Homo sapiens: one gene and its partner. Each later gene encodes a partner of the first gene's protein in a complex. Each region holds a gene or a part of one and is shown on either strand. Other genes may lie near its edges. The genes, in order: TSEN15 and TSEN34. A codon is read from its position in the direction of its gene.

Evidence for each region.
Region 2: the proteins of TSEN15 (region 1) and TSEN34 are in contact, whole or in part, in a crystal structure (PDB 6Z9U), measured with the Homo sapiens proteins. Residues at the interface, in NP_443197.1 of Homo sapiens: Leu70 (codon at 3,674), Lys74, Trp76, Thr108, Pro109, Ile110, Thr111, Ala112, Ser113, Leu114, Ser115, His116, Asn117, Ile119, Arg120, Leu123, Leu141, Ile143, Val151, Tyr152, Tyr153, Lys154, Leu155, Thr156, Asp157, Gly158, Phe159, Met160, Leu161, Pro162; in NP_001070914.1 of Homo sapiens: Pro251 (codon at 9,269), Leu252 (codon at 9,266), Arg253 (codon at 9,263), Phe254 (codon at 9,260), His255 (codon at 9,257), Ala256 (codon at 9,254), His257 (codon at 9,251), Tyr258 (codon at 9,248), Pro265 (codon at 9,227), Glu266 (codon at 9,224), Asp267 (codon at 9,221), Thr268 (codon at 9,218), Ile269 (codon at 9,215), Pro270 (codon at 9,212), Leu271 (codon at 9,209), Gln272 (codon at 9,206), Leu274 (codon at 9,200), Ser283 (codon at 9,173), Val284 (codon at 9,170), Arg285 (codon at 9,167), Lys286 (codon at 9,164), Thr287 (codon at 9,161), Leu289 (codon at 9,155), Leu290 (codon at 9,152), Cys291 (codon at 9,149), Ser292 (codon at 9,146), Gln294 (codon at 9,140), Val300 (codon at 9,122), Tyr301 (codon at 9,119), Thr302 (codon at 9,116).

Annotation. Positions count from the first base shown.
Region 1 is NC_000001.11:184,042,987-184,058,099, reverse strand, and holds the start of TSEN15 (tRNA-splicing endonuclease subunit Sen15), read right to left. Parts: upstream 6,371-15,113; 5' UTR 6,345-6,370; coding exon 6,210-6,344; intron 3,747-6,209; coding exon 3,665-3,746; intron 3,373-3,664; coding exon 3,237-3,372; intron 1-3,236. UniProt on the Homo sapiens protein: Non-catalytic subunit of the tRNA-splicing endonuclease complex, a complex responsible for identification and cleavage of the splice sites in pre-tRNA. It cleaves pre-tRNA at the 5' and 3' splice sites to release the intron.
Region 2 is NC_000019.10:54,187,367-54,202,448, reverse strand, and holds TSEN34 (tRNA-splicing endonuclease subunit Sen34), read right to left. Parts: upstream 11,142-15,082; 5' UTR 11,085-11,141; coding exon 10,842-11,084; intron 10,729-10,841; coding exon 10,485-10,728; intron 10,334-10,484; coding exon 10,076-10,333; intron 9,275-10,075; coding exon 9,087-9,274; 3' UTR 8,828-9,086; coding exon of another isoform or gene 8,778-8,827; 3' UTR 7,917-8,777; downstream 1-7,916. Other genes in the region: RPS9 (small ribosomal subunit protein uS4), read right to left, coding at 840-962, 1,168-1,264; membrane-bound acylglycerophosphatidylinositol O-acyltransferase MBOAT7, read left to right, coding at 13,941-14,016, 14,103-14,232. UniProt on the Homo sapiens protein: Constitutes one of the two catalytic subunit of the tRNA-splicing endonuclease complex, a complex responsible for identification and cleavage of the splice sites in pre-tRNA. It cleaves pre-tRNA at the 5'- and 3'-splice sites to release the intron.

The DNA of each region.
Region 1 (15,113 bases):
TTTGATTAAAATAGGCTATTGCTTTCATTAATTTTATTTTTTAGGAATAAATGCAGGTTAATTTCAAATAGTAGCTCCTTGTCCAAACAAATAATATAACATTAATACTAGCTAGGACAATATTTGTTACAGTAATTAAAAGACAGAAGTAATGAGTTCTGAGGAATGAATTAAGACTCTTGGATATAGGATGGCTTGGAAATCATGCTAGTAAAAACCGGAAAGTACTAGCGATTAAATCTGATGTCAATGCTAACAACTATTTGTAATTCTCAAACACAGAGAAAACAGTAAGGAGCTTCTCAAAGAAGCATATGAATAGACTGACATATTAAAAAACAATTCTCATTATGAATAATAAATACAAAAAATACTTCATAGAAATCTGCAAATTTAGTTTAATATGGCTTTATGAAATATGCACAATGAAAATAACCAGTTACAGCAGCTTTAATTTAGAAGGGATCTTGCATGTACTGGTAATCTAAATCCCTCAACAACAAAATAAGACGAGGAAACTGAAACCCAGAGAAATTAGGTGTGTTGCTAAACATCAAACAAAATGTTAAGTGTCAGTCCCAAGACTAGAACCCAGGTCTTAAGACTTTATAGTCTGGGGCTCTTTCTACTAGACTGCTATGTATTCAGTCATAGTCAGCTAGAAAAAATGTTAAGTATTCATCAACGGTATTCATGCTGGAATTTAAGAGGCTCTGCTCTTTTCCCTACTTATATGCCACCCAAATAGAGCTGTGTTTTCATTTGTTCATTCTTCCCATACCCCACTCTCAGAGGTTTACAGCACCCCTTTACATGCTCAATATTACTCTCCTCCACTATCCTCTTGAATCCATCCTTCCTCATCTCTCAAGAATCTTGCTCCATCAATAATTGTCATCTCTTTTCTATTTTCAGACTTTCTGTAGGACAGCTCACGTGGCAGCTGGCTTCCTTTATAGTAAGCAAGAGAGAGTGCCCAAGATAGAAGCCACAGTCTTTTGTAACCTAATCTTAGAAGTTACATTCCTATCATTTTTGCCAAATTTTATTCATTAGAAAGAAGTCACTGAGTCCAGGTCACACTCAAGGGAAGAGAGTTACATAAGGGAGTGAATACCAGAATTAGGAGAAGCCATCTTAGAAGCTGCCTGCTACAGCTTCTAAAGAAGAAATGCATAAGGGAGGCTTGCTAACCAGATACCAAGACTTCTTACCAAGCAAGCGATTAAGAGATATGGTATTGGCAAAAGGACAGATAAACTGGCTAATGGAATATAATAGAGAACCCAGAAACAAATTAATGCATGTTTGGAACTTTGGAAAGTAGCAGAAGTGATATGTCAGATAGTGAGGAAAGGAGGGACTATTCAGTAAATGGAGGTAGAAAAAGTGGTTATCCACATGACAATGGTATCCCTAACCGCCTCTCACACCATTAAAAACAAGAACAATAGAACTCTTAGTGAAAATATAAGTATTTTTTAGACCGTTAGATAGAAAATATTTCTTAAACTAGACACAAAGACGTTGATTATAAAAGATGGATAAATATGATTATATTCAAATTAAGAACTGTTACTCATTGAAAGACATCTTAAGACAGTGAAAGACAGACTTAAAAACTGGAAAACACAATAAAAAAACTATTAGGTCAAGAATATATAAAGAATTCATACAAGTCAATGAGAAAACTAAAAACAACCCAACAGGCAAAAGATATGAACAGATATTTCTTATAAATAATACATATATAAAGAAATATTCAGTATTATGAGTAATAAGGGAAATGTAAATTAAGACCAAAATAAGAATAATCCATTCCATTGGCAAAAATTTAAAAGTCTGACAATACTAAATGTGAGAGACAATACAGCTCCAAAGGATCTTATTTACACTGCAGGTGAAAAGTAAATTGAGGCAACCACTTTGAAAATAGTTTGAAATTATCTCCTAAAGTTAAACATTAGCAACACTCCATCATCGAGGGAGTGGATGTAAAAATGGTGGTATAATCACACAATGGAATGTTATGTGGCAGCTCAAAAAATGCACAAGAATGGATGAATTTTAGTAATATAATATTAAGTGTATAAGGTCAGCCTTAAAAGATAAGATTTTTTAATTAAAGTTAAAAACATCTAAAATTTAAAAATTCCCAATGTACATGGAATTCAGAATGAGTTACCTCAGGTCAGTGAAAGCACGTTAAGGAAGGGACTTATAAGATTAGATGTTAGTTATTATCAAGAATCTAGTTTTGCTTTGGGTGATGGGTACAGAGATACTTATTACATTATTAAAAATAACTAAGTAAATAAATAAAAACCAAGCATGAACTAATAATGAGAGTATGTCATGAAACAAAGACATGTTTAATCCAATGCTGTGTACCTAAGCTTTTTAAAAAAAGGTCCTAAAAAAAGTCTCTTTTTTAAAGCTTTTAAAAAAAGCTACATGAAAATTTGATTTCAGCTTGCATGTTAATCATGCTTTTCACCAACTGCTATATAAAGTATAATTTGTATTACATGGTACATCTTATAACAGCTGTTATTTCATATGTAATGGTCTTGCTTCCTTACCAAGAATATAAATATTTCTACCATACATACTGTCTCTGAAAAAGTACTGACCATAGAGTAAGTGCTAAATAAATACTTGTTGAATGCTTGATATACTTTGTATATTTGTTCCTGCCCAAATCCCATGTTGAACTGTAATCCCCAATGTTGGAGGTGGGGCCTGGTGGGAGATGTTTGGGTTATAGGGGTAAATCCTTCATGGCTGAGTGCTGTCTTCAGGACAATGAGTTCTCGTGAGATCTGGTCATTTAAAAGTGTGTGGAACCTCCCCCTCAACACTCTCTCTCACTCCTGCTTTTGCCATATGATGTGCCTGCTCTTGCTTCACGAACTTCCTCCATGATTATAAGCTTCCTGAGGCCTCCCTAGAAGCCGAGTAGATGCCAGCACCATGCTTACTGTAAAGCCTTCAGAACTATGAGCCACTTAAACCTCTTCTTTTTTTTTTAAGAAATTACTCAGTCTCAGGTATTTCTTTATAGCAATGCAAGAATGGCCGAATACAACACTCATATTTAACTTATTCCTCAAATAGCCAAGAGTAAAGCTATGAACCCTGTATCCCAAATTTCATTAAAAGTATTACATCACTATGTTTAATGTTTCCTACTGCTTTACTCGGGAAAGGAACTTAGACCAAAATCACCTGCTCACCTGTTATGGCTGAGGGAAGCAGTGATGGGGGTAGGCACCACAGTCTGTAACCCCTCCCCTTCTATCTCAGTACCAACAAGGCAGATGAGCTGGAGTTCTGGTAATCCTACACAGTTTACTTCATGCCAGCTTTTGCCTGAAAGAGCATCATTGAATGGACAATAATGTTTATTAAATACAAAAAATAAAAACTCCAAACTTCTACCTAATACTCAGCTGAGCAAATATCACTCGTAACACTACCTCCTGTCTTTGCTTTTCTAGTAGCTTCTGTTACTCAGTAATTCCCAATGTAAATAAATAAATTGCAAAATTAACAGCAAATGCATAAAAGATTGCTTATTATGTTAAGAATGCTATATCCCAATCCAACCCCCCAAATCTCTACCACAGTCCCAATAACAAAACAATATAAACAAACAACTTACTTTCCATGAGGTCCAGGTAAACCAAGAACGCTACATAAACTTGGGTGGCATCTCCTATATCTAATTCCATCATTTCTAGATACTGAAAATTAAAATATAATTGTCAAATTGAGAAGAAAAAATTATTTAATATTTTCTTCCAATCATCAAGTGGTCATCAAGCATATATAATCTATAAAATTCTTCTAGGTATAGTGGAAGTTAAAAGGCAATATAAGATCTTATCTCTGTCTCTAAAGAACTTGCAATTGTTAAATACATGCACACTTAAAATTGTTAGGCAAATAACAATATATGACTGTAAGTGATTAAAAACCATGTAAATGGAATAAAAAACATGACACAGCAGGTCAGAAGAGCTCTACTCAGAGGGACTGGTGAAAGATTTATAGCAGAGGTGGGATGGGATACAAGTTGAGCACTGAAGAACATTATGATTTAAGTAAGTGGAGAAGTAGAGTAATACTGCAGGTAATTACACAAAGGTGGGATTAAGCCACATACATTCAAGGGCCTGTAAAGAAACCTATCTGCCAGCAATAGAGAAACCTTTTTAATAAAACTTGTGATGGGACATGTTAGTGGGTACTGTGTATTTCCCTAGCCTCTTATTTGTATATGGAGAGAATCTGCTAGAGTATCAGTCCTAGCCTCTCTACCCACTCTTTCTCACTTTAAGAGTAGATTTTTTAAAAGGAATTGACAAGGAACTAGAGAAAGCTGCTTCTTTCAGACTACTGGTCAGCATAAGGGGAATACTTTTCAGGGGCCTACACCTGCAGGAGAATTCTGAGGCTGCCCAGCTATGCCAGCGACTAGGTGGATATGCAGGGCTAATGCTGAGTTGAATTATTAGCAGACCTGCATGGGGACAGGTCTAAAGTCACATTCTCCCATCAGCTTCACTGTAACTGTACAGGTTCAGGAGGACAGGGGTTAATTAGTTGTCGACTTCAAACATGTTTTGAAAATAACACCCAAAACATAATTTTGAGCCAGGTTACAAGGCTTTGGTGGTCAAGCTAAACATGTGATTTTATCAGTATGGAAACACTGAGGATTTCTAAGCAGGAGAATAATAAAATAAAAGTGTGTTTGGGGATAATAAATCTGGTACCATTTTACTGGATGAAACTACATAATTTTTAAATTAACAGAAAGGTGAAATTGGAAAAACAAATACCCCCTATTATTTTATTACTTGTTCTTTTTCTTTTAAAAATTAATTTGATCCTTCAAGAAGAGAAATCAAAAGGGGAGATTTGATGGTCAAGGTGTATACAGCCATTAACTTGAAAAAGAAAACAATCTACAAGTATATAAACTGAATAACACCACCAAATCTAGATAAAGTCTTAAAAAGTTGTTACTGGTGTTTCGCTTATTAAGTACTTATATAGTGCTTTCTGTATGTTGAATGGCTTACAAATATTCATTAATTTAATCCTGTAACAACCGTATAAGTAAGTATGGACTATTAATATCCCCATTTTTCAGGTGAGGAAACTAAGGCATAATAAGATCAAGCAACTTGTCCCAAATCACAAGGTTGATAAGTGACAGAATCAGGATTTAAACTGAGTCTGATTTTGAGTTCATGCGCCTAACCAATATGCTGCCTCTCCATGCTATTGTTTCCCTAAAAGGGCACTAAATAATATTTCCATGCTATTGTTTCTTTTTCTCACCTTTTGGGAGGATGAAGGGGACAGAGTAGGAAGATAAAATTAAGCAAGAGAAGCTGAAAAAGGTTAACTCTTCAAACTTATACCTTCAAATTTTTTCTTGGCTGTTTTTAGATGATTATGAATTATTGCTCTCTAGCAGAAGAGTGCAATTCTGTTAAAGTACCGTAGAGACTAGTTTTTGAGATTCTTACAAAACCCACATCTCCATTCACTGTCTATTCACTGCTTGGAACCGTACTTGTACAAGGCAGTAATGTCTCAAGCAGAAGTAAGCAGAGGACTATCTTGATCTCGCCTGCTGCTAATCTAGAAAAATACACGCAAAATGTGAGTAGCTCTGCTTTGAGCAAGAACCTATTCAAACTTTCGAAGAAATCTGAAATATTAGGAATCTGCACCTTTTCAAAATAAAGATGCATTCTGGGCCCAAGGCTAAGTGTAAACGTGACTGTGCTTAAATCTTTATCACTATGGACCCCTAGATCTTATCCATCGCCCACAAATTGTCTTGCATGGTTACCGTGAGGATTAAATAAATTTATCCCCCAAAGGGGATTTACCTAGACAGCAAAACTAGTGGAGCGCTTATTAGGGATCTCCGGCTTGAGAGGGGCGGAGTTACTGTCTGGCTCTCAGTTCCAAAATGGCTTTGGCTGGGGGATTGAGATAGTGCAACTTGTTTAAACAAACAAAACCGATGCTGCCTGAGGCTGGCAGTTGTGCACACCGGTCCCCCTCGGTGAGGGTGGCGCGCGTCCTCAGTCTCCCACTGAGGAAGAAAGAAAGAGAGCTGCCTGGGAGTGTTCTGCCTGGGTTAGGGGCCTGGACGGCGCCCTGCTCCTCTCGCGCCTCCTGACCTTAGGGTGAGTGCCCATCCAGGCGTCCTCAGGGGCCCACGAAGGAGCTCCACCGCCGTCGCCAAAGCCGCGAACACCGCCCGGACCCAGGCCGCTGCAGCCGGGGGTCGGCTCGGAATCGCCGCGCTCCTCCATGCCGGCCGGTGCGGCGCTCCCGTGGTGCACCACGACCCGCGCCCGGCCAGAAGCAGCGGCGCGCGCGCCTGTGGGTTCCGCTTCCCCGAGGCTCGCAGCTGCAGTGCGAGAGGGCTCAGAAACTGGGAGGAAAGTTGCATCAGCCCCTCCTTCTGACCAAGGTAGCTAGAACCTGCGCGAACGCTCTCTAGTTTCGCTCTGCGTTTATTCAAATCTGAGCAAATTCTAACGTGAAAAATATTAAAGAGTAGCCTGCGCCCTGAAGCTCTTAATCCTCTTTAAGTCAGTGCTGCCGATAACTCTCTGAGAAAGTTGGGGGATACATACGTCCTCTTTGCCTTCAGCAGTGGGGTCCTGGTTTCTGATTGCTGGGGACGGGAAAGGCCTTACTCAGTGCCCTGACATAGAACTTTAAAGTAGAACCATACTTTCAGGGTGGACCCACGTTTCAGGATTAGAGGAAACACGAGTTGCTGAACGAGTGTTCAGAAAGGTAGGATACAAACTAGCATAAGCATGTGATCTGGAAGCCAAGGATGAGGAGTTTCAAACAGGCAGAGTAGCACATTTTAAGTATTTTTTAATTTACTGTGAGTGAAATGGGAAGCTATTGGAGGCTCCTGGACGTTTTCATAGGATCACTCTGACTGATATGTTGAGGATAGACTGGAGGGAGCAAGGACACAAACAGAGACTGGTTAGGAGGCTATCGCATTGACCAGGACAAGGGTGACTCAAAATCCAAAGTCCCAGGCAGGACATAACTTCTGTTTTCAACCATGATAGACTAAGACCCTAGTGGACCATCCCCCAGCAGAAAACAATTTGGACACAATGCAAAAAGCTGAATATACTGGAATGTGAATAGTGGACTGGTAGGAAGGGCAAGCTTGCTTGAAGATCAGGAACTACACTTGGACACAATACAAAAAGCTGAATATACTGGAATGTGAACAGCAGACTGGTAGGAAGGGCAAGCTTGCTTGAAGATCAAGAACTCCACAAGAAAATTCTCCTCTCTTTGGCATTTAGCTTGGGGCAAAGTGCAGTCCAGAAGTCAGGCTCAGCAGTACCAGGGATGCATGTATAAAACTTATCAGTTATTCTTGTCTGGGGAAGCAGAAAAGTGAAGACAGAAAATTTTGAATTCTGAAGAGATTAAGAAATCCCAAGGAAGGAGTCAGAGAGTGGATCCCCAAACTGTCAACCCACATCTCTGAGAGATCCTGAACCACCCAAAACAGAATCACAGCAGCTCAGTTAAAAACAAAAGATCTGAACTGAGACCAGAGCTGTCTCCAAAAGGGAGAGAGTTTTCAGTTAAAATCTAGCCGGGAAAATTACCTACTAATACAAAGGAAATAACACTCATCAGAGAAGAATAATAGAATCCAGACTCTCCACTTAACACTCACAAAGTCCAGAGTACTATCCAAAACTATCTGACATATGAAATTCAAGGAAATGGATCGCATACTCTAGAGATCAACCCTGAGATGAATCAGATATTGAAACTGACAGATAAGGATTTTAAAGTGACTATTATAACTATCCTCAATGAAGTAAAACATGTTTTCAATGAATGAAAATCTCAGGAGACAAATAGAAAATCTCAGCAAAGAAAAAGAAAAAAAAAGATTTTTAAAACCAAATGGAAATTCTGAAAATTGAAAATTATAATTTTAGAAATAAAAAATTCACTGGGTGAATTTAACAGCCAAAAAAAATTACAAAAGAAAAAGTAGGGAACTTGAAGATAGAGCAATAGAAATTATTAAAAGTAAACAACAAAGAGAAAAATTATCTTTAAAAAGTGAGTAGACCAACAGAGATTTGCTACATGTCAGACAATCCAACATGCATGTAAACAACAGAAGTAGAAAAAAAAAGGGACAGAAAAAATTTTTGAAGAAAGAGTGGTGGCCAGAATTTCCCCAAATTTGATGAAAAACACATTTACTAGTACAAAATGCTAAATACATAGCAACTAAAATAAACACAAAGAAGTCTACATTGTAATAAAACTATTGAAAGTCAAAAAAATAAAGAGAAAAGCTTGAATGCATCAAAAGAAATAACACATCATACACAGGGAAAAGAAGGGCATCTATTATTGAATGAAATGTAAAGCCACACATGAAGATTCATATGTTGCCCTCAAATACATTACATTTGAATGAACCTTTGCCACCACAAAGCAGCTGCTAAGCCCGAAAGAAGAAAATGGCACTGAAATTAATTGGGTCATTGAAGCATGAAACACTGACACGAATTCAAGTGATTGGAAGTGAATAAATCTCTCTGACTCCTAAAGATCCAAATCAGTTCATATGATGGCATTTTTAAAAGCATTAAGAGTATTTTGATGCTAATCTGAGTAGAGGGAAACTTTTATAAATCAGTAAGGATATCCAATGGGATTAGGGACTATATGAACCAGCCTCAAACATCTGCAGGGGAAGAATTTCAGCTTATGTTCAAGAAAAAATAATTGGGGGTATGGAAAGAACCATAAACCAAAAAAGCAACAGATAAATGCCATCCTTTGGCAAATAGATTAAATACTGTTGCTTAGAAAAAGCATGATACATTCAAGAATGAGTATTACGTGCTTTTCAAAAGAGTTGAAGAATGAAAAGGGAGTGTCTGTTAGCTTCCCTGTTAATGTAAATTTTTAAATAGGTCTTGGTGATTGTGAATGGCTAAGAATGAACACAAAGGATTTGGGAACACTTAGACAACCCAGTATTTAAAGTACAGAATCAAAATACCTATTGTGACAATCTAGAGTGAAATCCACTAGAGAACAGAGGAGAGTTTCAGTGTCTGGTATCCTGGAGGATTTCTCATTTTGTAAATGCTTCAATAGTTCACTCTATTAGAGAACCAAAGTAGTGAGAAAAAAAAGCTAGATAAGAAACAACGAATGAAATCCCCCCTGAGTATATTGGATTTAATCAAATTCATTGTAATCTGGCACTTGCTGAACTCATTTCCCAATGATATCCTGAGCCAGATCATTTTATTCCTACAAAAATCTGTAATGTCTAGCCAGAGACATATTAATTCAGTAAGAGTCTCGAGGAAATGCGAACACTAAATTGTGATGTGAATCTCTAGTGTGGAAAGAAAATTTAAAAAAGAAGAAGAAAAGCTTTTACACAGTATTGTATGAGACAGTGATTCCAAGCTGAAAAATGTAGCCTAGCATTCTGGATCAGCTTTTCATTCATTGGTTGTAAGGAGGTTCACATATATCTTGTTCCTTTTTTTGTACACAAAACACACAATTTCCTATTCTCTGTGTTTCAAGAACAGAGAAAGATTCAAGAAAGAGAATGATTCAATATTGTAAAGATGGCAATTTCCTCCAAAGTTATTTACAGATTCTATCAATTCCAATTAAAATCCCAAAAAGTATTTTCTTAATACCTGATAAACTGATTCTGAAATGTGGGCATAAAGGGCCAAAAATAACCAAGACCCTTTTTGTGAACAAAAGGGAGAGAACTTACGAAGTTAAAGTTCTGAAATATAAATATCTTATAAAGATAAGGTTTTAAACAAAATTTAAATTCTTACAAAGATCTCTAATTACAAGTATGTGATATTGGCACATGGATAGGTAAAACCAATGAAGCAAAATAGGGAGCCAGGCAACAGACCCATACACATGTGGGCAGATGCAAGAAGGGAAGGAGAGAAGGGGTGATTGGCTACACGGTATAGGCAAACACTTTTAAATCTCTAGGAGAAAATATAAAAGAATATTTTATGACCCCAAGTTTAAGAGTGATTTCTTAAGACACAAAAAGCACAAACCATATGCTTCACTCATGTCCCTGTGAAGACACCACCAAACAGGCTTTGTGTGAGCAACAAGGCTGTTTATTCCACCTGGGTGCAGGTGGGCTGAGTCTGAAAATAGAGTCAGCGAAGGGAAATAGGGGTGGAGCCGTTTTATAGGATTTGGGTAGGTAAAGGAAAATTACAGTCAAAGGGGGTTGTTCTCTGGCGGGCAGGGGTCGGGGAGGGGGGGGTCACAAGGTGCTCAGTGGGGGAGCTTTTGAGCCAGGATGAGCCAGGAGAAGGAATTTCACAAGGTAATGTCATCAGTTAAGGCAGGAAGAGGCCATCTTCACTTCTTTTGTGATTCTTTAGTTATTTCAGGCCATCTGGATGTATATGTGCAGGTCACGGGGAATATGATGGCTTAGCTTGGGCTCAGAGGCCTGACAATATGGAAAAAATTTGGTAAATTTAACTGTATCTCAGTTAAGAATTTCCAACACTAAGAGAGTGGAAGGAAAATGACATCTGTAACACACAATTGAAAGAAAAGATACCCAGAATATATACAGAACTCCTAAAAATCAATTAGGAAACAAAACAAAACACTCCTTAGGTTAAAAAAAAGAAAGTAAACAGAAAAAAAGACATAAAAGGCCAGCAAACATAACTTGATGTTCAGCAACATTGATTGAGTGAGAAAATGTAAATTGAGGCAAGAAGATACCATAATACACCTATCAGATTAGCAACAAAAGCCAAGAGTTGGCAGAAAAGTAGACCAAAGGGAAGATGCACAAATCCTATGATCCAACAATTCTAATCCCAGGTATATATTCTAGAGCAATATTTTTAAATGAAGTGCCAGGACCTGTTAGTGGTTGTGAAATACACTAGTTATTTTAGTTATGTTAGTGGTTAGTGGGTTGAGTACAGTTTTCAAAAAGTAATTATTTAAAACACACATAGAGTTTCAATCAACAACTTGAATGAATCTCATAAAAACTAAAAACCTAATGTATAGTCAAAATGTTAGTTATAGAAGCGTATATAAGATATTTGATTTGTTTAAAATTCTAATATAGCAGCTGTATTTATAATAGCCCAGAAGTGGAAACAACCCAAATGTCCCTCAGCTGATGAAAATATAAAGTAGTATGTTCATACAGTGGAATATTATTCAGCATTAAAAAGGAATAAAGTACTCATGCTACAACATCAATGGACCTTGAAAACATAGTAAGTGAAAGAAGCCAATCACAAGGGGTCACATATTGTAGAATTCCATTTATGTGTAATGTCTAAAGTAGGTAAATCTATAGAGACAGAAAGTAGATTAGTGAGAGAGTAGCACGAGCTGGGAGACATAAGGATTGATCACTAATGAGTATAGGTTTCTTTTTGTGGTGATAAAAATGTACTAAAATTGATTGTGATCGTGTTGCATAACTATGAATACACTAAAAACCTTTGCATTGTGTACTTTAAATAGGTGAATTGTATGGTATTTGAAGAAAAATTCAAATGCAGGCAAAACTAACACACATTTAGGAGATGTACCAGAGTTCTCCAGAGAACAGAACCAAAAAGAGAGAATGAGATTGATTTTAAGGAATTGGCTCATGTGATTGTGGGGGCTTGAAAACCTGAAATCTGTGGAAGGCAGGCTGGCAAGTTGGAGACCCAGGAAAGAGCTTATTTTGCAGTCTTGAGTCCAAGGGCAATCCAGAGTCAGAATTCCTTTTTTCATGGAGAATCCCATTCTTTTAAGGCCTTCAACAGATGGGATGGCAACCCACATTATGAAGCGTAATCTGCTTTACTCAAAGTCTACTGATTTAAATATTAATCACATTTGAAAAATATCTCACAGCAATATCTAGACTGGTTTGACCAAGAAACTGGGCACCCTAGTGTAGTGAAGTTGACCCGTAAAATTAACCATCACAGGAGGTAAAGTTCTAAACAAAATGAAGAGACTGATTAACACAAAATTCAGTCTAGTACTTATCTCTGGGGAATGGAACAAAGCATTGTGACAAGAAGGGACTCAGGGCTTCAGAGTTAATGGTCATGTTCTGTTTCTCAAGGTGGGTGCTGGGTATATGGATATCCATTTTATTAGTAGTATTTAAATTAATGTATTAGTTTATGGATTATATCTGTTAGTTTATATTTCATGTTTATTAAATATTTTTATTAAAATTTTTCTAATATCTAGAGTACAAAGTGATAGTAAGTTAGGCAATTTCTATAAGTAAACAGATGCATATATGCAACCTTAAATAATGCCTGGCTTTGTAAATATGAAAAGACATCAAAAGCAATCCATGGTCCAAAAAATATCCCATGTCTATCTCTAGATATTTAGTCAACATCTGCTATCAACATGGATATTGAGTCTCACTGAAGAGGACTGAGTACAAACCCACATTGAAAATGTGCAAATTAAAAATGCCATATTAAAATTACCCCAAAATGTTAATGGTTGTGGTGGAGTAGTGGATCATGAGTGATTTTTTTCTTTTTTTCCCCCATTTTCAACATTTTTTAAAGTTCTATAGTAAAATAGACTTTAATAAATCATTGAATTTTAGAGCCTTTGGCCTAGAAGGGCTAATACAACACTCCACATTCATGTTAAAATATATCTTACGGCTTATTTACCTTGCTTAAATGTCCCTCCCTGCTTTCTTCTATTCCTCTCTCCTTCTCCCTCTCTCTGTCCTTTCTTCCTTCTTTCCTTCCTTCTTCTCCTCCCCATCTAAAACATCCAGTACAACATTAAACAGACGTAATGAGATCTGACATTCTTATCTTGTTTCTGATCACAGGAGGAACACTCAGTCTTTCACCATTAAGGATGATGTTAGCTGGGGGCTTTTTGTAGATGCTGTTTATTACGTTGAGGAAGTTCCCTTCTATTCCTATATACTGAGAATTTTTATGAGGAATTCATGTTGGATTCATAAATGCTTTCTCTGCATTTCTTGAGATGATCATATGATTTTTCAAGTTTGTTAATAAATCACATGGATTGACTTTTTCTTATTTTCTTATTGTGGTAAAATACATATAACAAAAAATTTACTATTTTAAGTGGTATTAAATACATTCATAATGTTGTGCAACTATTACTCATATCCATCTCCATGACTCTTTTATCTTTAAAACTGAAACATATACCCATTAAACAATAACTCCCCATTTCCCCTACCCCCATCCCCTTGGCAACCACCATTCTATTTTGTCTCTGTAATTTTGACTAACTACCTTATATAAGTTGAATCATACAATATTTGCCTTTAAAAATTGGCTTATTTCACTTAGCATAATGCCCTCAAAGTTAACATGTTGTAGCATATGTCAGAATTTCCTCCCTTCTTGAGACTGAATACTATTCCACTGTATGTATATACCACATTTTGCTTTTCCATTCACTAATCAATAGGCACCTGGTTTGCTTCCATATTTTAGCTATTGTGAATAATGCCACTGTGAACATGGGTGCACAAATATCTCTTTGAGACTTTGCTTTCAATTTGTTTGGGTATATAGCTAGAAGTAGAAGTGTTAGATTATATGGTAATTATATTTTTAATTTCTTGAACTGTCATACTGTTTTCCACAGCAGCTGTACCATTTTACATTCCCACCAACAGTGCACAATGTTCCAATTTTTCTACACCCTTGCCAACATTTGTTATTTTCTGTGTTTTTCTAGTAGCCATCCTAATGAGTGTGAAGTGATAAATCTTATAGTTTTGAATTGCATTTCCTAAGGATTAGTGATGTTGAGAAACTTTTCATGTGCTTATGGCCATTTGTATATCTTCTTTGGAGAAATGTTTATTCAAAGTCCTTTGCCCATTTTAAAGAAATGATTATATATAAAATTGTATAAAACCGTATAATTTTCTAGCTTTCTCTGTTACTACTTCCCATCCTATCTCCCAGCCATGCCCTGTTCATTGTATCTCTCAAGTGTGTCATACTGTTTCATTCCTTGCTCCTGCAGTTCCATCTACCTGGAATTCCCATCTCTTTCCCCTTCTGTCTTCCTTTTCTTAGTCCATGCTACTCATTTTTCTTTTCTTATATTTCGAATCAAATTATATTTTTTTCAGCTTTTAAGTTCAGCAGTACATGTGCAGATTTGTTACATAGGTAAACTTGTTTCATGGGGGTTTTTGATACAGAGTATTTCATTACCCAGGTATTTAACCTAGTACCCATTACTTATTTTTCCTGATCCTCTCTCTCCTCCCACCTTCCATGCTCCAATACGCCCCAGTTTGTGTTGTTCCCCTCTATGTGTCCATGTGTTCTCATCATTTAGTTCCCACTTATAAGTGAGAACATGTGGTATTTGGTTTTCTGTTCCTGCATTGGTTTGCTTAAGGATAATGGCATCCAGCTCCATCCATGTCCCTGTAAAAGACATTATCTCATTCTTTTTTATGGCTGCATAGTATTCTATGATGTGTATGCACCACATTTTGTTTACCCAGTCTATCATTGATGGGCATTTAGGTTGATTCCATGTCTTCATTATTGTGAGTAGTGCTGCAATGAACATACACGTGCATGTGTCTTTATGATAGAATGATTTATATTCCTTTGGGTATATAACCAGTAATGGGATTACCTGATCGATGGTCTTTAGGACTTTGAGGAATTGCCACACTGTCTTCTACAATGGTTCAACTAATTTACACTCCCACCAACAGTGTATAAGCGTTTTTTTTTTCTCCACAACCTTGCCAGCATGTTATTTCTTGACTTTTTAGTAGCCATTCCGATGGTGTGAGATGGTATCTCATTGTGGTTATCCTATAATTCTCAGCCTATCACAGCTGCCCCAGAGGCATTTATTTCCTCCTCTTCTTCGCTGTGGTTTTTACTTGAACTTCTCCAATAATCAATGATGTTGAGCTTTCCTTCATATGATTGTTGTCCACATCTATACCTTCTTTTGAA
Region 2 (15,082 bases), on another chromosome or scaffold:
TTGCTAAATACCACCTAAATGTCCTTGACCAGCTTAAAAAAACAAGCACCAGCCTGGACAACATGGTGAAAACCCATCTCCACTAATAATAGAAAATTAGCCAGGCTTGGTGGCCCATGCCTGTGATTCCAGCTACTTAGGAGGCTAAGACAGGAGAATCGCTTGAACTCTGGAGGCGGAGTTTGCAGTGAGCCAAGATTGCGACAACTACACTCCAGCATGGGCAATGGAGCGAGACTCCGTCTCAAAAGTAAAATTAGCCAGGTGTGGTGGCGTGCGCCTGTCTGTAGTCCCAGCTACTTGGGAGGCTAAGATAGGAGAATTGTTTGAACCCAGGAGGCGGGGGTTGCAGTAAGCCGAAATGGCGCCACGGCACTCCAGCCTGGGCAACAGAGCAAGACTCCGTCTCAAAAGACTAAATAAAACGAGAAAACTTAATTAAAAAAACAATAAACCAAGCAAATGTGCAAACCCTGTTATCACCATCACTTAGCCCAGAAATTCCACTTCATAGTCTACTCTCATCCACTAGCAAACAGGCCACATAAACAGAATATAAAGATATAGACGGGTGCCCAGGTGTGCCAGGCCTATCTTTAGCTCTGGTCATTACTAAACTGAAGGTCCAATAACTGGGCAAAAAAGCCACACACCTAAGAAACAGGGCAAAGACTGATCCAGATACACTTTTCCTACTCCACAAGTGCCACTAAAAGTTAGAAGGCTGGTTCCATTTATCCAATGACACAACTCTCATCACTGGAACAGAGGCAACAGAAGGGAGAATGAACCTCACAAGCCCTGCACCCCATCCCTCTGCTGTGGACTCCCATACGCACCTTCGAACAGACGCCGTGGGTCCTTCTCATCAAGCGTCAGCAGTTCCCGGGCGGCCTTGCGGATCTTGGCCAGGGTAAATTTGACCCTCCAGACCTCACGTTTGTTCCGGAGCCCATACTCGCCTGGTGGGGAGAAGGGGGTGGACAAGTGTAGTCCCACGTACTGGCACAACAACTAGACTGGCAGCTTTGGAATCACAAAACCTTCCTAAACCACGAATAGTACCAAATTTAGGGGACGGACTAGATAGAGTACATGGGCACCTTCATCCACGTGCTAACCGCCTCCCGGAAGCCGAACCACTTCCCGGAAGCCTTGGCCACTCACCGATCAGCTTCAGCTCTTGGTCGAGACGAGATTTCTCGAAGGGTCTCCGCGGGGTCACATAAGTTTTGCGACAAACCCAGCTCCGGGCCACTGGCATGTTGGCTCCGCTTCCCCGTCTGCGCCTGCGCGGGAGAGAAGTGTGAGCGTAAGGGATCCAAACGGCGCCTGCGCAGTCCCACAACTACGCCAAAACCTCGCGGAGCCCAGATCCGATCTCGCGAGAATAACCTCCAACGCTCTCATAGTCAGTATCTGCCCCCACAACCGTGCTGCACTCCCGTTCAACCACCCTGCTCTGTTTCCTAACGTCTTTAGCTTACTCATGGAAACTCGGAAGGCCCGGGCCACCATCCAACCCAAACCCTAGAGAAAAAGCACACCACCGCACCTCACCTAAGCAAACCACCCGGTCACTGAGAAAGAGGCGCGGAAGCGCCACGGCTGCGCTCTTATAGTAACGCCGGCGTCTCGTGACGTTTTCACGCACCACGCACGTCAGAGCCAATCAGAAGAGGCGTTGGCTGGCTGAGAAGCAGTGGAGACGTGAGGCTGGGCTAGAGCGGCGTGCTAACCTGGGAGGACTAGGTTTTTTCCGGCCAGGGAGTGGAAACCTGAGAAGTAGGGAGAACCTTCCTTCTCCGCCCCTGGACGGTGGTTTTTCTTTTTCTTTCTGAGACAGGGTCTCGCTCCGTCGCCCAGGCTGGAGTGCAGTGGCGTGATTTCGGCTCACTGAGGCCCCGACCAACCTCTCGGGCTCGAGCGATCCTCCCACCTCCTCCCCAGTAGCTGGGATTACAGGCACACGCCACGACGCCCGGGTAGCATTTTTTTTTTTTAACAGTCGGCGTCTTGCCATGTTGCCCAGGCTGGTCTTGAACTCCCGGCCTCGAGAGAGCCTCCCGCCGTGGCCCCCCCAAAGTGCTGGGATTACAGGCGTGAGCCACCGCGCCCAGCCGAGATTATTTCTGTCACTAACAATAATGTGGCATTCTGGAACGCTATGTGCCACATACTGTTCTAAGAATTTTAAATGTATTTACTCAATCTTCAATACATACTTACAGAGCACTCTCAGAGAAGTTGCCCCCCCACCCATGGTACTATTATTATCAATAGCCACTTAAGGGGTATTAGTACTATTATCAGTAATTTATTTTATTTTTGAGACGGAGTTTTTCGCTCTCGTCACCCAGGCTGGAGTGCAGTGGTGCGATCTCGGCTCACTGCAACCTCCGCTTCCCGGGTTCAATCGATTCTCGTGCCTCAGCCTCCCGAGAAGCTGGGACTACAGGCGCCCACCACCATGCCCGGCTAATTTTTAAATTTTTAGTAGAGACGGGGTTTTGAACTCCTGGTCTCCAACGCCTGACCTCAAGTGATCCACCCGCCTCAGCCTCCCAAAGTGCTAAGATTACAGGTGTGAGCCACCGCGCCTGACCTAGAGTTCTCTTTTTATATATAGTCTGGTTATTGTCTGTCTGTACACCCATCTCTCCACTCCGAATGCGATGGTCTGTCTCCACAGCTCGTGTTCTTCAGTTGTCTTCCCTACGCTGCTGCCTCGGCAGTCACTATCTCCTCAGGAAGCAGTCCCACCCGCCCCTTTCTCTTCCACGGCATCCACACCATCCGGATGCCTGGATTCAAATGCCACGTCACCACTTGCCAGCTGCAGTGCCTTCGACAAGTTTCTCAATCACTCTGTGCCTCAGCGTCCTCCTCTGTAAAACGGCGAATGATGGTAGCGCCTACCTCATAAGCTTGTGAGGATTAAGTGAGAGTCTATCCAGTGTTGAGGAGAGTGGCATAAATAAAGCGCCTAGTGGTAGCTACCATCGTCATTATTGTCATCTGCATTGTACTTCCATATCTTACAAACTACCTTGTTCAGTTTTATGGGTTTTTTGTTTGTTTGTTTTGTTGTTTTGAGACGGGGTTTTGCCATATTGCCCAGGCTGGTCTTGAACTCCTGGGCTCAAGTGATCCACTCGCCTCAGCCTCCCCAAGTGCTGGGATTACAGGTGTAAGCCACCATGCCTGGCCAAATTTTATGCATTTTTGTATCTTGAACACGCGTATATTATTCATCTGGAAGGGGGAAACGTGGAAGGAAAAAACTTCCATAAGTTTTCACTCCCTTCAGGATGAAGTCCAAGCTCCACAAATTCCGGGTGCCTCGTGATTACAGAGATGGTTTTATAATGGTGGTTGAACCTGTAGGTTCTCAAGTCTTAAAAAAGATCTGCGTTTGAACCTCAGCAGTCACTGACGAGCTCTTGATCTTAGGCAAATTAGCCTCTTCAAGAGTGCTAAATGGGAGAAAGTAACAGGACTTTCCTCATAGGGTTTGATGATTTAGAGTAAAAAAAAAAAAAAAAGAAAAGAAAACCAGCACAGAGTCTTGTGTACTGAAGGTGCTTAATATCTTAACACAGCTGACTCTGTACAGTCTGGGGGCGAGGGGCACTGACCCCCAGCTCAGCCGAAAACCTCCATATAGGCTGGGCGCGGTGCCTCACGCCTGTAATCCCAGCACTATGTGGAAGGCCAAGGCCGGCGGATCAACTGAGGTCAGGAGTTCGAGACCAGCCTGGCCAACATGACAAAACCTGGTCTCTACTAAAAATACAAAAATTAGGCAGGCGTGGTGGCAGGTGCCTGTAATCCCAGCTACTTAGGAGGTTGAGGCAAGAGCATCACTTGAACCCAGGACGTGGAGATTGCAGTGAGCCGAGATCGCACCACTGCACTCCATCCTGGGCGACAGAGCAAGACTGCCTCAAAAAAAAAAAAAAAAATCAAGAAAGAAAATCTGCATATAACTTTTGACTTCCCCAAAACTTAACTACTAGGCCAGGCACCGTGGCTCACACCTGTAACCCCAGGTGGGATTTGGGAAGCTGAGGTGGGCAGAGCACTTGAGCCCAGGAGTTCAAGACCAGCCTGGGCAACACGGCAAAACCCAGACTCTACAGAAAACAGAAAAATTAACTGGGTGTGGTGGTGTGTGCCCGTAGTTCCAGCTACTTGGGAGGCTGTGGTGGGAGGACTGCTTGAGTCAAGGAGGTTGAGGCAGCAGCGAACTAAGATCATGCCCCTGCACCCCAGCCCAGCTGGCAGAGCAAGACACTGTCTCAGGATTTAAAAAAAACATTACTCGTAGTTGACTGGAAGCCTTACCAATAACATAGTCAATTAACACATATTTTATATGCTATATGTATTATATTCTGTATTCCTATGATGAATTAAGCTAGAGAAAAGAAAATATTGGCCGGGCGTGATGGCTCATGCCTGTTACCCCAGCACTTTGGGAGGCTAAGGCGGGCGGATCACCAGGTCAGGAGATCGAGACCATCCTGGCTAACACGGTGAAACCCCATCTCTACTAAAAATACAAAAAATTAGCCGGGCGTGGTGGCAGGCACCTGTAGTCCCAGCTACCGGGGAGGCTGAGGCAGGAGAATGGCGTGAACCCGGGAGGCGGAGCTTGCAGTGAGCTAAGATCGCGCCACTGCACTCCAGCTTGGGTGACAGAGCGAGACTTCGTCTCAAAAAAAAAAAAAAAGAAAATATTAAGAAAATTCTAAAAAAGAGAAAATATATTTACTATTCATTAAGTGGAAGTGGATCATCATAAAGGTCTTCATCCTTGTCTTCATTCTGAGTAGGCAGAGGTGCAGAAAGAAGAGGAGGGTTTGGTCTTGCTGTCTCAGGGTGCCAGAGGTGGAGGAGGTAAAAGGCAAAGCAGGAGAGGCAGGCATGCTCTGTGTAACCTTTACTTTTTTCAATCTGCATAAAAGTGGACCCGAGCAGTTCAGACCCATGTTGCTCAAGGGTCAACTGATGAGATCTGGCCTCACCCTGATCCTCTTCAGAAGCATGGTCCAGTCATATGGCACCAGGCCCTCTTCCACAAACCCCTCATGCTTCCTCCTCTCTCTCTCTCACTCAGGCTGGAGCCCTCTAGCCCTTCCTCTCTGAAAGGAGCACGGGTAATATAAGAGGAACCCTTGGTTTCCATCATGGGTTGCCAAGGACCAGCTGGGCATGCTTGGGGAGCTGAATTCCTTTCCTTTTGTACAAGTGTAATAAAATCTAATTATGCCCCATCCATAGGACGCAAAACCATGTAGCTGTTGGCAAAAATGAGACAAGCCTGGGCATATCCAATAAGCAAGATGCAGAAGTGTGCATAGTATGCTACAATTTTCATTAATAAAAATGACCTTAACGTATGTATATTTATTTAAAATATGCTTAGAAAGTCATGTAGGAGAAATTATAATTTCCAAATTGTCTCAGCCCTGATTTAAAAATTATAGTTTAAGCCACTCATTTATTTAGCAACAATGTATTGACTGCTGTGTGCCAGGAACTGTTCTTGGACCTGGGGATACTGCATGAACAAGGGTAAATAAAAGAAAAACCAAAACCAAAACCTTGTCCTTAACTAGAAACAAATGCCAATCACCTGATGAATGGATAAATAAAATGGGGTTATGTCCATACAATGGAATATCCAGCAGTAAAGAGGAACAAAGCTGGCCGGGCACGGTGGCTCATGTCTATAATCCTAGCACTTTGGGAGGCTGAGGTGGGCGGATTGCCTGAGCTCAGGAGTTCGAGCCTGGGCAATTATGGTGAAACCCTGTCTCTACTAAAATACAAAAAATTAGCCTGACGTGGTGGCAGGCGCCTGTAATCCCAGGTACTTGGGAGGCTGAGGTGGGAGAATCGCTTGAACCCACTTGAACCCAGGAGGCAGAGGCTGCAGTGGGCCGAGATTGTGCCACTGCACTCCAGCCTGGGCAACAGAGCAAGACTCTGTCTCAAAAATAAAAAAAATAAATAATAATAATAATAATAAGCAAGGAAGAGAATGCACATGGCCAGTTCATGAGGAAGCTGCAAAGTAGGACCTTTGAGTTTTACTCTGAGATGGAAAACTCCAGGAAAGTTTTAGACAGAGCTGTGACATGGTCTGACTTATCTTTTAATATGATGATTCTGGCCGGGCGCGGTGGCTCACGCCTGTAACCCCAGCACTTTGGGAGGCCGAGGCGGGTGGATCACAAGGTCAGGAGATCGAGACCATCCTGGCTAACATGGTGAAACCCCGTCTCTACTAAAAATACAAAAAATTAGCCAGGTGAGGTGGCGGGCGCCTGTAGTCCCGGCTACTAGGGAGGCTGAGGCAGGAGAATGGCGTGAACCTGGGAGGCGGAGCTTGCAGTGAGCAGAGATCGCGCCACTGCACTCCAGCCTGGGCGACAGCGAGACTCCGCCTCAAAAAAAAAAAAAAACAAAAAAACAAAAAAAAAACGATGATTCTGGCTGCTCTGTTGAAAACAGACAACAGAGGGGCAAGAATGGAAGGCAGGGGATGAGTTAGGAAGCTATCAATATCAAATGAGCCATGGTTTGGTTTTTCTAAGATACTGGCAGTGAAGGTGGAGGGTGGGGCCTAACTGTGGATCCACAGTGCTTTGAACATGGCACCTATAGAATTTGTTGACTGACAACATGGGGGGACACCAGTCACAAAAGTTTTTTTTTGTTTGTTTGTTTTAAATAGAGATGAGATGAGGTCTCACTATGTTCAGCCAAGGCTGGTCTCAAACTCCTGAGCTCAGCGGCTCAACTGATCTTCCCACCTTGGCCTCCCAAAGTGCTAGGATTACAGGTCTGAGCCACCACATCTGGCCACAGGAGTTTTAAATGAGGAACTTTTCAGAGGAGAGACTCATGACAGAGGGAATGAGACTTCTAAGTACTTTGTTGTAGAGAGGAGAAAGGGTGGAGAATAGACTTACAAAGCCAATTATGAAGCAGGCACAAAGAGAGTATTGGCCAGACAGGGGTTAGCGTCATTTTTTTTCTTTTCATTTTTTTGAGATGGAGTTTAGCTCTTGTTGCCCAGGCTGGAGTGTAGTAGTGCGATCTTGGCTCACTGCAACCTCTGCCTCCCGGATTCAAGTGATTCTCCTGCCTTAGGCTCCTGAGTAGCTAGGAGTACAGGCGCATGCCACCACGCCCGGCTAATTTTTTTTTTTGTATTTTTAGTAGAGATGGGGTTTCACCATATTGGCCAGGCTGATCTCAAACTCATCTGCCCACCTCAGCCTCCCAAAGTGCTGGGATTACAGGTGTGAGCCACCACACCTGGCCCAGTGTCATATTTTAAATTAATCTAAACTTACAGGAAATTGAGATTCTATGAAGTCTGTTTACTGGGAATGGCAAGAAAGAGGGGAGATGGGAGTCTCTCTAAACCTATTCTGGTTCCAGAGGCTGCTCAATTCACACAAAAAAGAGAAAGAATGAAACATGGGGGGAAGAAATGGAAGAACTAGAGGTGGAGACTTTCAGCCCCAGAATTTTACCATGTGGAAGTTTTTGTTTGTTTTTGTTTTTTTGAGACAGTGTCTAGCTCTGTCGCCCAGACTGGAGTGCAGTGGCGTGACCTTGGCTCACTGCAACCTCCACCTCCCAGATTCAAGTGATTCTCCTGCCTCAGCCTCCGGAGTAGCTAGGATTACAGGCGCCCGCCACCACGCCCGGCTAATTTTTGTATTTTTCATAGAGGCGGGCCATGTTGGCCAGGATGCTCTGGAACTCCTGACCTCATGATCCGCCCGCCTTGGTCTCCCAAAGTGCTGGGATTACAAGCATAAGCCACCACGCCCAGACTCACCATGTGAATGTATTACACTGACAAAATAAACGTGACAAAATAAAACTGCACATTGATAAGATAAAGGTGTAATTATTGGAATAGTGGTAGTGTTCTAGTACTTTCTTAAGCAAAAACATGGGTAAATGATTTCATAAGTGCAAATTTTTTACAAATACATGTGTTTTAGCTTTTATAAAAATTGCAGAATATAACACATCCAAAAAAGAGTCTAAAATATAAATATACAGTATCAAAAAAATTCACCACTACCCAGGCCATGAAAAAGCAGAACGCCTTCCAGAGTCCTTCCTTTCTCCCCAGGCTCTGAACTCCTAAAATTACAATACTCATTTCCTTTCATAATATATATATATATACACACACATATATATACATACATGTGTGTATATTTACATATATACACACACACATATATATATTTTTTGAGACAGGTTCTTGCTCTGTCTCCCAGGCTGGAGGGCAGTGGTGCAATCACAGCTCACAGCAGCCTCAACTTCCCAGGCTCAAGGGATCCCTGGCTAATTTTTTTTTAAATTATTTTTTGTAGAGACTGGGTATTACAATGTTGCCAGAGCTGGTCTCAAACTCCTGGGCTCAAGCGATCCCCCTGCCTTGGCCTCCAAAAGTTCTGTGGGATTACAGGTGTGGGTCATCGTGCCCAGCCTATATTTTTATTTATAACGTTTGTATGCATCTGGGAAATTTCATAGAAATCTTTTCAAAAGGAAGTTTAGTGAGGTAGAAAGAGTGCAGATTTAGGAGTCAGAAAAACCAATTTTGAAAGGCCAGGCCTGCTATTTACTAAGTGTGTGACTTTGGGCAAGTCAGTCCCCCTCCTCCAGGCCTTTTTCTCACCTGTACATGCAGATGAGACCATCCACGGGTTCCAGGACTGTCGCAAACATTCAAATCATGAACATTTATATACCAAGTTTATTGAGACCTCCTGAGACTTAAACCCTGTAGAAAACAGATGAATCAAACCCAGGCCCCATTCTCGGGAAGCTCACAGTGTGAAAATAGGTAACTACAAAAACACAGCCAATAAGTGCTTTGAAACAAGGAAGAACATAAAAAAGATGTAGTGTTCGAAAACCTGGAATCAAAAACTAACCGCGGAGAAAGGTAGGAGGATGTTCTAGACTCCCAGAGAAGAGCTGGGGAACATCCAGAAAGGCTCTTGCTGCCGACACAGCCACATCCCCTAGGTCTCTGGAGTTCACTGCAGGCTGGCCCATTGCAGGGAGGTGTAGACCACCTTACCATCAGGCTGCGGAGAACAGAGGAGCAGGGTCTTTCTGACGCTGGTTCCAAGGCGCCCAGCAGCAACCAGGTCTTGGAGTGGGATGGTGTCCTCAGGGGCCCAGCACTGAGCGATATAATGGGCGTGGAAGCGGAGGGGGTCACCTGGGGGAAGGAGAGAGGCACTGAAGCAGTGACCAATGGCAGACGGCTGGACGCCACGGGAACGACCACTGGGAGGAGATCTGAGATCATTTCAGCCATCACTATAGATACTCTAAAACAGATGCTCTTGGACACAACTATTCCACTTCTAGGCTTTTTTTTTTTTTTTGAGACAAAGTCTCGCTCTTGTCCCCCAGGCTGGAGTGCAATGGCACGATCTTGGCTCACTACAACCTCTGCCCCCTGGGTTCACATGATTCTCCTGCTTCAGCCTCCCGAGTAGCTGGAAATACAGGCACCCACCACCACGCCCAGTTAGTTTTAGTATTTTTAGTAGAGATGGGGTTTCACCATGTTGGCCAGACTGGTATCAAACTCCTGACCTCAGGTGATCCACCTGTCTTGGCCTCCCAAAGTGTTGGGATTACAGGCGTGAGCCATTGCGCCCAGCCTGATGTCTAACTACTTCTAAGTGAATCTTCTGGATCACAGTAATCATTTAATAAAAGTCGTTAAACTGCTTGCCCAATGAGTTCGGGAGCTCCCAAATGTTTCCTGTCTGTCTATGAATTTCAGAGGCTAAGAGAAAGTGAGACAAAAAAGAAAAATGCAGCTGGGCCTATAATTCCAGCACTTTGGGGGGCCGAGGTGGAAGGATTGCTTGAGCCCAGGAATAGGGACCAGCCTAAGCAACAAGAGACCCCACCTCTATTAAGACAAAAAAAAAAAAAAAGAAAAACGCAGAATACATTGGGATCGTATGGAAAGGCACAGCAACCAGAGGCCCCAACCCATACTCACCAGGATAGACCAGGAAGTCACCTCCGAACTTGCCAGCCGCACTGAGGAAGAAGCCTCGCTCCCACAGGTCTCTGTAGATACTGTAGCGCAGCTCGTGGGCAGGGCGGCCGGCGTGGGGCCAGTCTTTAGACTGGACACGCCAGTCCAGGGGCCTGGCCTTGACCGGTCGAGGCCTGGCAGTGGCCAGCTGGACAAGGAGAGCAGATCTGGGCAAGGGGGCTACCCCATTTGAGGGTCCTGCTTGGGAAGACGAGGGGCCTGGTGGGGAGTACAGAGAAGAGTTTGGTAAATTCAAGGGGTAAAGTCTTCTCACCCTCAGGGAGACCCAGGCACTGGATTCCCAGCTAAAATTCCTAAAAGATCTCTCCTCTCCTTCCCGTGGTCCCTGGACTCCACCTCCCATGCTCACCAGCTTCCTCCTGCTCTCCCGAAGCCTGGCCATCACTGGTCTCATCCTCTTTGGCAGCCTGGCTCGAGCCGGCCTCCTGGCTTGAGCTGGCCCCTGAAGCCTGTTCTAGTTTCTGCTTCTTAGCAGCCTGGCCCTCCGTAATCTTCTCCAGGAGCTCCTGACGACGGGTCTCCCGGGCCTCAGCTGCCAAGGCGCTCTGCTCCTGGAAGCTCTCCTCTTGCTGGCGCTTGAAGGATGTCAGGGCCTGAGAAGCACACTTCGCTGGAACCTCCAAGCTTATGGTCCCTTCAGAAGCCAGGAAACTTGACTCCCAGGTCCCGCTCCCACCGAACCCGAGTTCGAGCCCCGCCCCCTTACCAGGCTGTGGTGCCGAGAGTCTGGACGCGGGGCGCTGACCAGAGTCACGGCGCCGATCTCGGCCAAGAGCCGCGCCTCTTCGGGCATCAGCAGCAGCGGGAGGCCCAGGCGCGAGTTCTGGCGGGGCCCGCGGGGCAGGGCGCCTACCGTGCGGCCCCCCACACCCAGGCGCTCCCGGAGGGCCTGCACCGCCTCGGCTCCCCACACCAGGGAGCGGCCGTTCGCCACCTCCACCACCAGCATCCTCCTGCGGGAGCCGGGAGGCAAAGCAGTTACCGAAACAGCTGCGCGCCGCGGACCGCTGCAGCGCACCCAAAGCCTCCGGGGTCTCGGCGAAGCCCCGCCCCTAGGCCTCAGGGGGCGGGGCCTCGCTCAGCCGCCGTTCACCACCTGCTGGGCCCGAGCGCCAGGCCCCGCCCCCGGGCGATCCCACCAGGCCTCGCGGCCGCCGGAGACGAGACGCCGGAGACAAGCCCCCGACCCTCTCCCCTCGCCAAGCCCCCAGGGTCCCGCTCTACCCTTGTGACCCTGCGGTCGGCACCCGCTCTGTGCCCGCACTGCCGTACCTACCATTGCGCCTTGGAGCGTGAAAAACAAACCTCCGCAAGCGCGGCGACACGCCCCCTTACAAAGGTCCATTTTGGCACCACCCTCTTGCAAAGTGGGCGTCCCCCTTCGGGTGTTCCCGTCAGCGGTCAGAAGCTCTGGAGGCTAAGGCACCGCCGAGGCCACACCCTCTTCCGGACGCTCGAGCCTTCGCTCCTCCTCTTTCCGAACGACTGTGATTCGGCTTTCGGACCTCCTCGCTCTCAGACTCCCACAGTACAAAACCCTGCCCCCTCCCGAGCACAGGAAGTTCGGCGTTCGGGCGTCCTCGGCTCCACCGAATCCGCAGCCCCGCCCCCTTCTCGAACGCCAGCAATTTGACGTTCGGGTGTTCTCGGCTCGGCCGAATCCGTAGCCCCGCCTCCTCCCGGACGCAATAGGTTCGGCGTTCGGGCGTCATCGGCTCCCGGCAGCCTCGCGGCCTGTGGCCCCGCCCCCTCCGAGCGCCAGCGCACCCCAGTTGGGGAGTTCCCGCCCTACGACCGAACCCCACAGCCGAAAGCCCCGCCCCCTGGACACCCGCCGTCCACTCTCCGCTCGGGCGGGCTCACCCCAATTGGGAGCGCTCAGTCCGCCTCCTTGCCTCCCTTCAGAATGTCCCACTGTCCACCGATAGAACCAGCGAGTCACCTCATAAACAGTAATTCGCAGTCGAGGTGGAGCCACCCACTGCGCACCGCGCCACGCGCTCCTTGCTCCACCCCCTCATGCCGACACCCTCGTCAACTTCGTCATCCCGCCCCATCAGCGCCGCGGGAAGTCAGGTCCCGCCCCTCGCAGGACCGAAGCCCCGCCCTCCTCCCGCGGGGGCCACCTTGGCTCCGCCCCACTGAGCGCACCTCCCTCTGCCGCTTCCTCTCCTCTACTTGGGAACTTGAGGATCGTCATCCTGGCCCGGTCCCGTAGGCGCACGCCGGCCCTCGGGGTTCCGCCCCTTTGAGGGCAAGTCGCTTTCGCCCCGCCCCCTTGTAAATACTCATGGGTGTCTGGCGAACCTGTTGACTCCGCCTATCATCCTAGCGTCACTTGTACCCAACTATCTACGAAGTAAACCGAAGCTTGTGGCCCCACCCACATCCGGCCGAGTCTGTGGCCCCGCCCACATCGGAACAGTGACCCTAAGGACTCGACTACCTCCGAAGAAAGCCGAAACATGTGGCTCCGCCCACAGTGGCCTCAGCTCTCCGTTCTCGACTATTGCCGAAGTGAGCCGAAGTTTGTGGCCCCGCTTCCGGAGAACTCAAGCTCCCGATTGTGCCCGAAGGAACCCGAAGGGAGACCCCGCCTCATTCCTCACGCCGAGCTCCAGACCCCGCCTCCTTTCCAGAGCCCGTCTGTTCCCCTTCGGGTCCAAAGCTTTTGGCTCCTCCTTGTTCCGAGCCCGAAGGCCCGCCCCTTCACGTACTCGGAGCTCGGATCCCAGTGTGGACCTGGACTCGAATCCCGTTGCCGACTCGCGCTCTCGGCTTCTGCTCCGGGGCTTCTTCCCTGCCCGCCCGGGGCCCTGACCGTGGCTTCTTCCCCGGCCTGATCTGCGCAGCCCGGCGGGCGCCCAGAAGGAGCAGGCGGCGCGGGGGCGCGCTGGGCGGGGGAGGCGTGGCCGGAGCTGCGGCGGCAAGCGGGCTGGGACTGCTCGGCCGCCTCCTGCCCGGCGAGCAGCTCAGGTGGGCCAGGGTGGCGGCGCCCAGTGGCGAGGCGAGGTTACACGGCGGCAGGGTCTCTGCGGGCTGGCGGGTGCGGGGCGGCCCCGGAGGCGCGTTGGAACTCGGGGCTGGCGCAACCGCCTGTGGCTCTGCCGGGGATGCGCTGGGGTGCGCGGGACGGGTTGGGGCTGGGCCTGGGCCTGGGCCTGGGGAGGGGAGGGTGTTCGATCCCCGGGTTCTCAGTAGGAGAGGGGTGTGGAGCTCCGAAGGAGGTGCAGGTTGGAGACCCGGGCTCCTCTGGGTGGTCTCGAAGGAGAAGGGCTGGGGGGTCCGGATATCTGGTTTCACAAGGGCCGGGGGATGGGGGATCCAAAGAGGGGGTCTGGGTTCCTGGATCCTCGCTGGAAGAGGGGGCTCGGAGGTCTAGATTCCTGGGCTGTCGAAGAGGAAGGGTCCGGGAGGGGTGCCGTTTCTGGGTTTTTAAAAGAGGGGCGTCTTCAAATCTGGGTCCCCAGTATGGGTGCGGGGAGTAGCTTTGATTTCTGCGTTCGCAAAGGAGGGGCTTGGGTGCTGGGAGATCCCCACACTTTCCTGGGTTCTCCAAGGACAGGAGAGCTGGAGGCCTGTGCGCTCAAAGGAGGGGCTGGGGGTGGATTCCTGTCTCCTCCAAGGAGGAAGGGGCTGGAGTCTGGGTTGCTAGGTTCTCAAAGGAGAGGAGCTGAGGCTCATACTCCATCATCCTCAAAAACTGGGGTCTAGAAGGCTGGGTTCCTGGATCCTCGAAGAGGGAGGAGGCAGGGGGCCTGGATTCCTGGGTTCTCACTGTGAATCTCTGCCCCTCCCCCAGACCATGTCGCCTGAAGAATGGACGTATCTAGTGGTTCTTCTTATCTCCATCCCCATCGGCTTCCTCTTTAAGAAAGCCGGTGAGTCAGGCTCCCTCCCCAGTGGAAAATAAAGGGGGGGGACCCTCTGGAAGGTTCCAGGCTTATGCTGTCCCTTCCCCCTGCAGGTCCTGGGCTGAAGAGATGGGGAGCAGCCGCTGTGGGCCTGGGGCTCACCCTGTTCACCTGTGGCCCCCACACTTTGCATTCTCTGGTCACCATCCTCGGGACCTGGGCCCTCATTCAGGCCCAGCCCTGGTGAGAATTTGGTGGAGGGAGGAGAGGGAGAGGAGGGGAGAGGGGGAAGCAACCTGTTTCCTCTTTGAGTCTTTTTCAGCTTCTGCCTCATGTCTAGCTGTCTCTTGTTGATCAGCTCATTTCTCTGTTTCATGTTTGTTTGTTTGTCTTTCTTTCTTTCTTTCTTTCTTTCTTTCTTTCTTTCTTTCTTTCTTTCTTTCTGAGATGGAGTTTCGCTCCTGTTGCCCAGGCTGCAGTTCAGTGGCACGATCTTGGCTCACTGCAACCTCCACCTCCCGGGTTCAAGCGATTCTCTTGCCTCAGCCTCCCAAGTAGCTGGGATTACAGGCATGCTCCACCATGCCTGGCTAATCTTGAATTTTTAATAGAGCTGGGGTTTCTCCATGTTGGTCAGGCTGATCTCGAACTCCTGACCTTGTGATCTGCCCACCTCAGCCTTCCAAAGTGCTGGGATTACAGGCGTGAGCCACCGCATCCGGCCTTCATCTGCTTTTCTTTCTCCCCTGCCTTCTGCGTCTGGTCCCTGTGTGTTTGTCCCAGTCCGCTACATCCATGTCATGGAGAGAGGTGGACAGTGTGTCTGCTGGCCTGGCCACCGTTCATATTCATTCATATCCACCTCTCTCTTCTTGAGCCCTGGACCTCGGAAATAAAGAAAAAGTGGAGGATTGCAGGGTCTTCACCCGAAGCTTCTCTTAACCTCATTCTCTGTTGGTGTGTGTTTCTATGTGGCTGAGCCTCTTCTCCCACTGTTTCAATCATACTCATTCGGTCCCTACATCCACCCTCCTGTCCTCTCTGCCCTTCTGTGTTTCTGTCTCTAAACGAATGGGGAGAGCTGGGGGAGGAT